2 separate regions of the Homo sapiens genome follow, and region 1 is linked to region 2. The links come from fine-mapping of genetic effects on gene expression. A gene starts in region 2. The other region holds a variant in brackets. All regions are shown on one strand. Distances are from middle to middle.

Region 1 (4,521 bases), 71 kb after region 2:
ATGAAATGAAGGCCATTCAAATCCACTATTGAAGGACAAACTGAAGACAGGGACATGGAGTAAGAAAGAAAAAAAAAAATCACAGCTGCCTGTCCCTGCAGCTGGGGCTTCCTAGCTGCTTTGCCGTCAGCTCCATTTATATCATGTTTTCCCTCGGAGAGACTTGAGGCCAGCTTAGAGCATCAGATCCTGGTCTAGGAACTAGCATTTTGAATGGGAGAAGTGAAGCACAGTGTTTGAATTGGCACTTAGTGGACACACAAGAAGGTGAGGATGGGCTGCCTCAGAGACAGTGATGTTTAAAATTCTTGAAAACCTAAGCAGTACCATTCAGGACATAGGCATGGGCAAAGACTTCATGACTAAAACACCGGAAGCAATGGCAACAAAAGCCAAAATTGACAAATGCTAAAGAGCTTCTGCATAGCAAAATAAACTATCATCAGAGTGAACAGCAACCCACAGAATGGGAGGAAGCTTTTGCAATCTATCCATCTGACAAAGGGCTAATATCCAGAATCTATAAGGAACTTAAACAAATTTACAAGAAAAAAAACAACCCCATCAAAAAGTGGGCGAAGGATATGAACAGACACTTCTCAAAAGAAGACATTTATGTGCCCAACAAACATGCAAAAAAGCTCATCATCACTGGTCATTAGAGAAATGCAAATCAAAACCACAATGAGATACCATCTCATGCCAGTTAGAATGGCTATCATTAAAAAGTCAGGAAACAACAGATGCTGGAGAGGATGTGGAGAAATAGGAATGCTTTTATACTGTTGGTGGGGGTGTAAGTTAGTTCAACCATTGTAGAAGACAGTGTGGCGATTCCTCAAGGATCTAGAACCAGAAATACCATTTGACCCAGCAATCTCATCACTGGGTATATACCCAAAGGATTATAAATCATTCTACTATAAAGACACATGCACACGTATGTTTACTGCAGCACTATTCACAATAGCAAAGACTTGGAACCAACCCAAATGCCCATCGATGATAGACTGGATAAAGAAAATGTGGCTGGCTGGGTGCAATGGCTCACGCCTGTAATCCCAGCACTTTGGAAGGCCAAGGCGAGCAGATCACCTGAGGTTGGGAGTTCAAGACCTGCCTGACCAACATGGAGAAACCCTGTCTCTACTAAAAATACAAAATTAGCTGGGCATGGTGGCACATGCCTGTAATTCCAGCTACTCAGGAGCCTGAGGCAGGAGAATCACTTGAACCCGGGAGGCAGAGGTTGCGGTGAGCCAGGATTGTGCCATTGCACTCCAGCCTGTGTGACAAGAGCGAAACTCCATCTCAAAAAAAAAAAAAGAAAAAGAAGAAAAGAAAATGTGGCATATATATACCATGGAATACTATACAGCCATAAAAAAGGATGAGTTCATGTCCTTTGCAGGGACATGGATGAAGCTGGAAACCATCATTCCCAGCAACTAACACAGGAACAGAAAACCAAACACTGCATGTTCTCACTCATAAGTGGGAGTTGAACAATGAGAACACATGGACACAGGGAGGGAAACATCACACACCATGGCCTGTCGGGGGATGGGGGTCTAGGGGACGGATAGCATTAGGAGAAATACCTAATGTAGATGACGAGTTGATGGGTGCAGTGAACCACCATGGCACTTGTATACCTATGTAACAAATCTGCACATTCTGCACATGGATCCCAGAACTTAAAGTATATATATCTATCTCTATCTCTATCTATATCTATCTATCTATCTATCTATCTATCTATCTATCTATCTATCTATCTATCT[G/A]TATCCCCAAAAAACTCTTTAGTGGTTCCCCACTGTCTTCAGGATCAAGTTCAAAGACCTAAGCTCATTTTGGGGCCTAAACCCCTAAATCCTTCATGGCCCTGTCTGATGAGGTTTCTGGCTTCCTCTCCATCTTTTTGCCTCTTTTTCACTCTCCCTACTCTTGTCTGCCTCTATGTGTTCTCCACAGAGCAACCAAAGTGGTCTTTTAAAGCCATTAAGACCCTCCGAAGAATTTGCATTGTTTTGAGAATGCAATCCAGACTCTTTAGCGTGCCCTGCAAGTCCCCATGTGGCTGGGCCTCTGCCTACCTTGCCAGCCCATTTCCTACTATCTCCCCCTTTCACTGCATTTCAGCCACATTGCCCTCCTTTCTGTTCCTTGAACACATCAACTCTTTACCACTTGGTGGCCTTTGCAACTGCTGTTCCCCCACTTGGAAAAGTGTTCCCTTCTCATCCTCGAAGCCTTTGCCAGGTCACAGACCAGCCAGCCTCTTGCTCTCTATCACATCGCTGCTTTATATTCCATTCTCTGAATTGATCATGTTGACTTGTGACCCCTGGAATCTGAGCACTATCAGAGCAGGGACTATGTCTATCTTGTTCACCAGCATATTCTCAGTGTCTAGGTTGGTGGGCCTGACACAAAACAAGTTTCAATAAAAAGTAGTGAGTCAGTGAATGAATGTGTGAGAGCCAGTGGTTCTCAAACTTGAATGTGCTACTTTGGGAGGCTGAAGTGGGAGGACCACTTGAGGCCAGGAGTTCGAGGTCAGCCTGGACAACATAGTGAGACCCCCTGTCTAAAAAATAAAATAAAATAATGATCTGGGCATGGTGGTGTGTACCTGTAGTCTCAGCTACTTGGGAAGCTGAGGTGGGAGGATCACTTAAACCTGAGAGTTGGAGGCTGCAAGTGAGCTGTGATTGCATCACTGCACTCCAGCTGGGCAATAGAGCGAGACTTTGTCCTTAAAAAAATTAATAATTAAAAAACCCTTGACAGTGCATCAGAATCACCAGGAGGCTTGTTAAAACAGGTTGCTTGCCCTACCTCTAGAGTTCTGATTTGGTAGGACTGGGGTAGGGCCTGAAAATTTGCATTTCTCCCAAGTTCCCAGGTGATGGTGAAACTGGTTGTGGGACCACAGTTTGAGAAATGCTGGTAGCTGAGTGCTTGAATTCTGAGCTTACATATGTTTAATATTTCATGCCTTTGTTCCCTTTCTTCTTTTCCTAGAACATGGTTTCCTTATTCCCTGGGCAAGCCTCCCTGCCTGCTTTAAGATGTGGGATGGGCATCATTTCCTCCAGAAGGCCTTCTCTGATCCTTGGTGCCCAAATCTCTGCCCCTTAGCACCTGATGTAAAGGGAGTCCTAACCTTTCCATGCTGCATTGGGTTAACTCTGCACATTAACTAGATTTCCAGACCACAAGTCCTCCAGAGCCTGCATTAGTCATGTCTGCATGCCAGCTGGAAGCTCAAGAATATTCCCTCTGAACTCGGAGAGGACATATGATGCCTCTGAAAATGAAGTCAGACCCATGCCCTGGGCAGATCTAGACTCCCAGCTCACTCTTGGGGCTCGTTATTTCTAGAGGGCTTTGCCCACAGCCTTCTTCTTTTTGCTTTTTCCTCTTACCAAACTCAACCCTTAATAACACTGTCTTCTCCCCTTTGTCTCCAGTGTTCAATTTTTCCAGCTTGTGCTCAAACCTAACTGTCCCATTTATTTGGTCAGCTTTAATATACTGTAATAACCTGTAGAGAGCACTAGGTCACTTCCTCCAGGCAGAGCAATAAATGCTAAAACTGGTTGGTGGGGGTGGGGAGAGGGGAGAGAGAGAGAGAGAGAGAGAGAGAGAGAGAGAGAGAGAGAGAGACCTTTTAATGTGTTCTCAAATTCCAATTTTATCTTCCTAAATACTACTCTTTGAAGTCACCTCCATTTTTCCCAATTATTCTGAGAAATCTCAGTGCTGTTCCCTTGTCTACAACAAAGCTAATACATGGGCAGAAGAGTGGGGTTCCCTGGAGGCCCAGCCTGCAGTGAGGTATCCCATGGCTCAGCTCTCCCTGAGTGCTACTGATGTTCATACTTTGGAAGAAACTCACCTTGCTGTGGTGTTGGAGCTGCACCCAGCCTCCGTAGCCAAACCTCTGCAGTGGGGAGAAGCACAGTTAGAGTCAAAGAGCAAAGACCAGGCTGCAATCAAGGGGCATGCTAAGTGCAGAAGATCCTGAGCTCCACCTTTCAAGCATTGCCTTCCCATTTCCCCCATACCCATGTATCGCCTATTTAGTATTTACAATTAAATTCACTTACATTTTTCCTTCAATATATTTATACAAGAAGAAAATACTGTTATCTCAGCAGTGCTGGTTTTATCTTTTCCCCTAATGCAGCTTGAATTTTTAAAATAAAGATTAACATGAAAAAATATTGTTCATGTGCCACCTAAAATCATTTCACAGGCTACCAGGAGTACATAGCTCCTAAGGACCACTCTTTAGGAAATACACTGCTTTTCAAACTGTGGGTTGCAATCCATGAGTAGATTGTGATATCAGTTTAGTGGATAGGGACTCAAACATTTTAAAACAGGAAATCATGTATGTAGCAGATGCTGTTGGTGTCCCGCTCATATCCCTTTGCTTTCACACTTCTGTGCATGCCAGCCCACCTCCATCAGCCAGCGCCTGCATTTCACTGGCTGAGGGCTTTCTCCTGG
Region 2 (4,000 bases):
AAGAAATAAATGTTTTTCTTTTTTAGCTTAAAAGGCCTGGCAGAGCTTAACAGTGCCTTGCAGTTTAATTCATCATAAATTTTAAAAACACAAAAACACCGCATCTGAAGCAAAATATTTATCACGTGATATACGTTTACCGTTAATTCAGAACACTAAATCCAACAACGCAATGACCAACTTTTTTTCTGCGTATCGATTTACCCTCAAATTTGCGGACAGTAAAAACAGACAACTAGTACTTACATTTTTGTTGAATTTGGTGAAAGAATGGTGCATATAAAACCTGTGCATATAAACAATCGCAGTGTTTATTGTAAGCTGAGAGCTGGAACGTAATATTTAGGAAATATCTGACAAAAGCAAGATCTCATTCCCAGAACAATTTTGATGGAAAATTCCCAGGTTCTTTTCCAATACCTCCCATTCAAATCCAAACCCCAAACTGGAAATAAAGAAATAAATGCCCGCGGGGGGTGGGGCGGCAGGAAGAGAATAGGCTTGACGCCAAATAAATGGGAATAAGAACTGCTGATCTTTTCACTCTAACAGCGCTGAGGGCCCTGGAACTATTTATCAATGGCTACGACTAACTAAACTCAAAATGAAACAGTTGAAACGCGCGCGCACACACCCATACAAAACCACGCCAAGAACATAAAGAACTCCAGTACGCTCCCAAGGTAGAAGAGAGCCGCCATCAAGCCGGCGACGAGAGCCGGGAAAGGCTGCGGCAAACACTTAGGCCTTTCAGCATCGCTAACCCTCCTACCTCTCAAACCCTTCGGGGTCAGGGACAAGTCCAGGGAGCCGCCCCTTTTCTGCAATAATCCCTAAAATTCCTCTTTCGCCTGAGCCACACTCCCAACCCCCGCCGCCACCACCACGCGCTGCCCCAAACAGATTACACAACGCAGGCTCCTGGCCCGCATTCCTGGGGTCCTATCTCCTCCTCCCTTCCTCTGCTGACCCCTCGCGACTGCCCGAGCCGGAACATTACTTCCCTGACCGCGGCGCCGAGGCCCAGCGAAGGCCGAGGCCGGCGGCGCCATGTTCGCGGGGCACCAGGCCCGGCGACCGGGCAAGGGAAACAGGGCGTGAGCGGCGGCGAACAGAAAAGGATACACATTGAGACGCTGTCCCATCTCCTGGATGAGGTTGGCCGCCTGCTGGCGGCACGAGAGCTCTTTATCCGCCTCCACTCCGCAGCGGCGGCTCGGCGTGTTCTCCAGCTGTTCCCGAGTAAAGAACCAGCGAGAAGAAGCTCCACGGCCCGACGCCATGACACTTCCTCCTCCGCCCGCTCCTTCATTCACCCCCCGCCCCTCCTGGCTCGCGGACTCCCCGCCAAGGCGCGCGACCCCGCCCCACTCCGCTCGCCGTAGACCACGCACCACCCTTTTTCACCACCGCCTCCGCCCTTGCGCATGCGCGGGGCCCGCTCTACCGACTCGCCCTAGTCTTTTGCTTTCTTTTTCTGCCCTCGGCCTCGCTCTTGCGCACGGGACCACAATGCTCCGCGCCGCTTGTCATTGGGAGGCGCCGAAGGTGGAGAGGTCGGCTCGGAAGGAAAAGGTCGGCGCAGCGCATGCCGGGTCTAGGGTTGGCGGGGCGAAGGGGTGGGGAGGGAAGGGGCGGGGAGGGGAGGGGAGGGGAAAGTGGGAGAGGGTGGACTCTGGCCGGTGTGAAGAGAGGCGGTCGGGCGGCTGCGCTGTGGGGGCCTGGGCGTGTACTTCGGAGGCCCGTCGGGCGCTTCCTTTAGACGGGAGGTCTAGCGGCCCTTTAAAAAGAGAAAAATAACCTTCACTGTCGCAGCCTCACGCCACTACTTCCATTTTCCTTTTGGGCGGGTCCGCGCAGTCTCGTAGGCGTGCGACTCCGGCCTCCGCCACCAACAGTCTCCGCCTAGCGCGCGGCTCTGGCGTTGAGCTGGCGGGGAAAGAGTGCACAGGAAGTCACGCTCCATGGCTGTCCGCACCTGAGTGCTTTTTTCACCCTACATTATCTTGTTTAAATCCCAGACCACTTGGTTTATTTTTATTTTTTCAAATTACTTGGCAAACGCTATCCAACTAGCAACGAGAAATTGAATTTCTAAATGAGGTGTTGAATCTAGACGGGGCGTGTTTTCAGGCTGCGCTGTGGTTTCTGCGAGACAAGGTTGGGGAGAATCAGATAGTGCAGGAGGAACTGAGTTAAAATTTTATCTTTAGGATTTGATGTGGGAACATCCCACATACCTGTTGATTAACTCCTGTATTTCTTCCTGTAAGAAAATGCCACTGAGCTTCACTCGGAGTTTGTGTTGTGAATAGGGTTTCTAAGTTTAAAGTCTTAACTATTTGGAGGCCGGGCACGGTGGCTCACGCCTGTAATCTCAGCACTTGGGGAGGTCCAGTGGGCCGATCACTTGAGGTCAGGAGTTCGAGGGCAAGGGCAACATGGCGATACCCCGTCTCTACCAAAAATACAAAAATTAGCCAGGTTTGGTGGCGCGCCTGTAGTCCCAGCTACTCCCGAGGCTGAAGTGGGAGGATGGCTTGAGCCCAGGAGGTGGAGGCTGCGGTGAGCTAGATCTCGCTGCTGCACCCCAGCTTGGGCGATAGTGCAAGACCTTGTCTCGAAAATAAAAAATAAAGTAATATCTATTTGCCAAAGACCATGGAGGCAAGTGATTGTTATGGGGCTCCCACGCTCAGCATACTGCATTGCACAAGAATATTGATTATAGTAGGCAGTTTTTGTAACAGTTGCTATTTCATACTCACTTCCCTTGCTTTACGTTTTATGTTGCTTACAATTTCTGGAATAGATTGATTTAAAGCAACATTTTAAAAGTGCAAACCCTTGGCCAGGTGCAGTGTTTCCCGGCTGTAATCCCAGCACTTTGGGAGGCCAAAGTGTTCTAGACCAGCCTGGGCAACATAATGAGACCCCACCTCTACAAAAGTTTTTTAAAAAATTAGCTGGATGTGGTGGCGTCTGTAGTCCTAGCTCCTTGGGAGTATCGCTTCAACCTGAGAGGTGAGGTTGCACCCCAGCCTGGGTGACAGAGTGAGATCCTGTCACACACACACACAAATAAAAGAAGTGCCCATCCTCAACATCCATTCATGATAAAAACTCAGCAAACTGGGAATAAAGGAGAACTTCCTCAACTTGATAAAGAGCATCTACAAAAATTCTGCAGCTAACAATAGATTGTTTCTGTTGTGAGAAACTACATTCTTTCCACCTAAAGTCTGACACAAGGCAAGCATGTCCCCTCTCACCAGTCTTTTCAACGTGGTACTGGGTGTTCTAGCTAACAAGAAAAGTAAATTAAAAGTATATACATATTGGGAAGGAAGACATAAAACTTCTTCTGTAAAATTTTAGGATATAAGGTTGAATACAAAAGTCAGTTTTCCTATACACCAGCAATGAACAATTGGAATTTATAATTTAAAAATGCCATTTACAATAGTACCGTCTCCCAAAGTAATACAGGTTGAGTATCACGTATCTGAAATGCTTGAGACCAGATGTGTTTTGGATTTCAGGTTTTTTTAGGTTTTGAAATATTTGAATTATAAACTTAGCCATTGAGCATCCTAATCCAAAAATTCTAAATCTGAAATGCGCCAATGAACATTTCCTTTGAATGTCATGTGGGGGCTTGAAGTTTTGGGTTTTGGAGTGTTTCTGATTCTCAGATTTAGGGATACTCAACCTGTACTTAGATATGGATCTAGGCAGGGCGCAGTGGTTCACACCTATACTCCCAGCACTTTGGGAGGCCAAGGTGGGAGATTGCTTGAGGCCAGGAGTTCAATACCAGCCTGGCCAACATGGGGAAACCTTGTCTCTACTAAAAATACAAAAATTAGCTGGGTGCGGTAGTGCATGCCTGTAATCCCAGCTTCTTGGGAGGCTGGGACACGAGAATTGCTTGGACCCAGGAGGCAGAGGTTGCAGTGAGCCGAGATCACTCCACTGCACTCCAGCCTGGGTGATAGAG

Which allele goes with the higher level. Positions count from the first base shown, and alleles are read on the strand shown. Sizes are in standard deviations (SD) of each study's normalised expression.
For the expression in neural progenitor cells of the gene that starts at base 1,532 in region 2, G is the high allele of the variant in region 1 and A is the other (large effect, 0.82 SD a copy in Aygun 2021).

Evidence for each region. PIP is the estimated chance that this variant, and not a neighbour inherited with it, causes the effect. A credible set is the group of variants that fine-mapping cannot tell apart.
Region 1: its variant is the best candidate, but not a certain one, in a credible set for the expression of CCNT2-AS1 in neural progenitor cells (Aygun 2021, PIP 0.58).

What each region holds. Positions count from the first base shown.
Region 1 is chr2:134,844,661-134,849,181 of GRCh38, reverse strand. ACMSD (aminocarboxymuconate semialdehyde decarboxylase) reads right to left here. Exons shown (of 10, transcript NM_138326.3): 2 at 3,905-3,949. Among named protein-coding and RNA genes, the nearest start is that of ACMSD, 8.3 kb to the right of the region's middle. The variant G/A (reference allele first, on the strand shown) is at 1,785.
Region 2 is chr2:134,916,138-134,920,137 of GRCh38, reverse strand. CCNT2-AS1 (CCNT2 antisense RNA 1) reads left to right here and starts at 1,532. Exons shown (of 5, transcript NR_036549.1): 1 at 1,532-1,575. It overlaps CCNT2 (cyclin T2), which reads right to left and starts at 1,316. Exons shown (of 9, transcript NM_058241.3): 1 at 1,126-1,316; 2 at 247-328. The coding sequence starts at 1,283. RefSeq lists enhancers at 717-806, 1,017-1,286, 1,437-1,596, 1,674-2,347, 2,357-2,406 and a silencer at 1,607-1,676.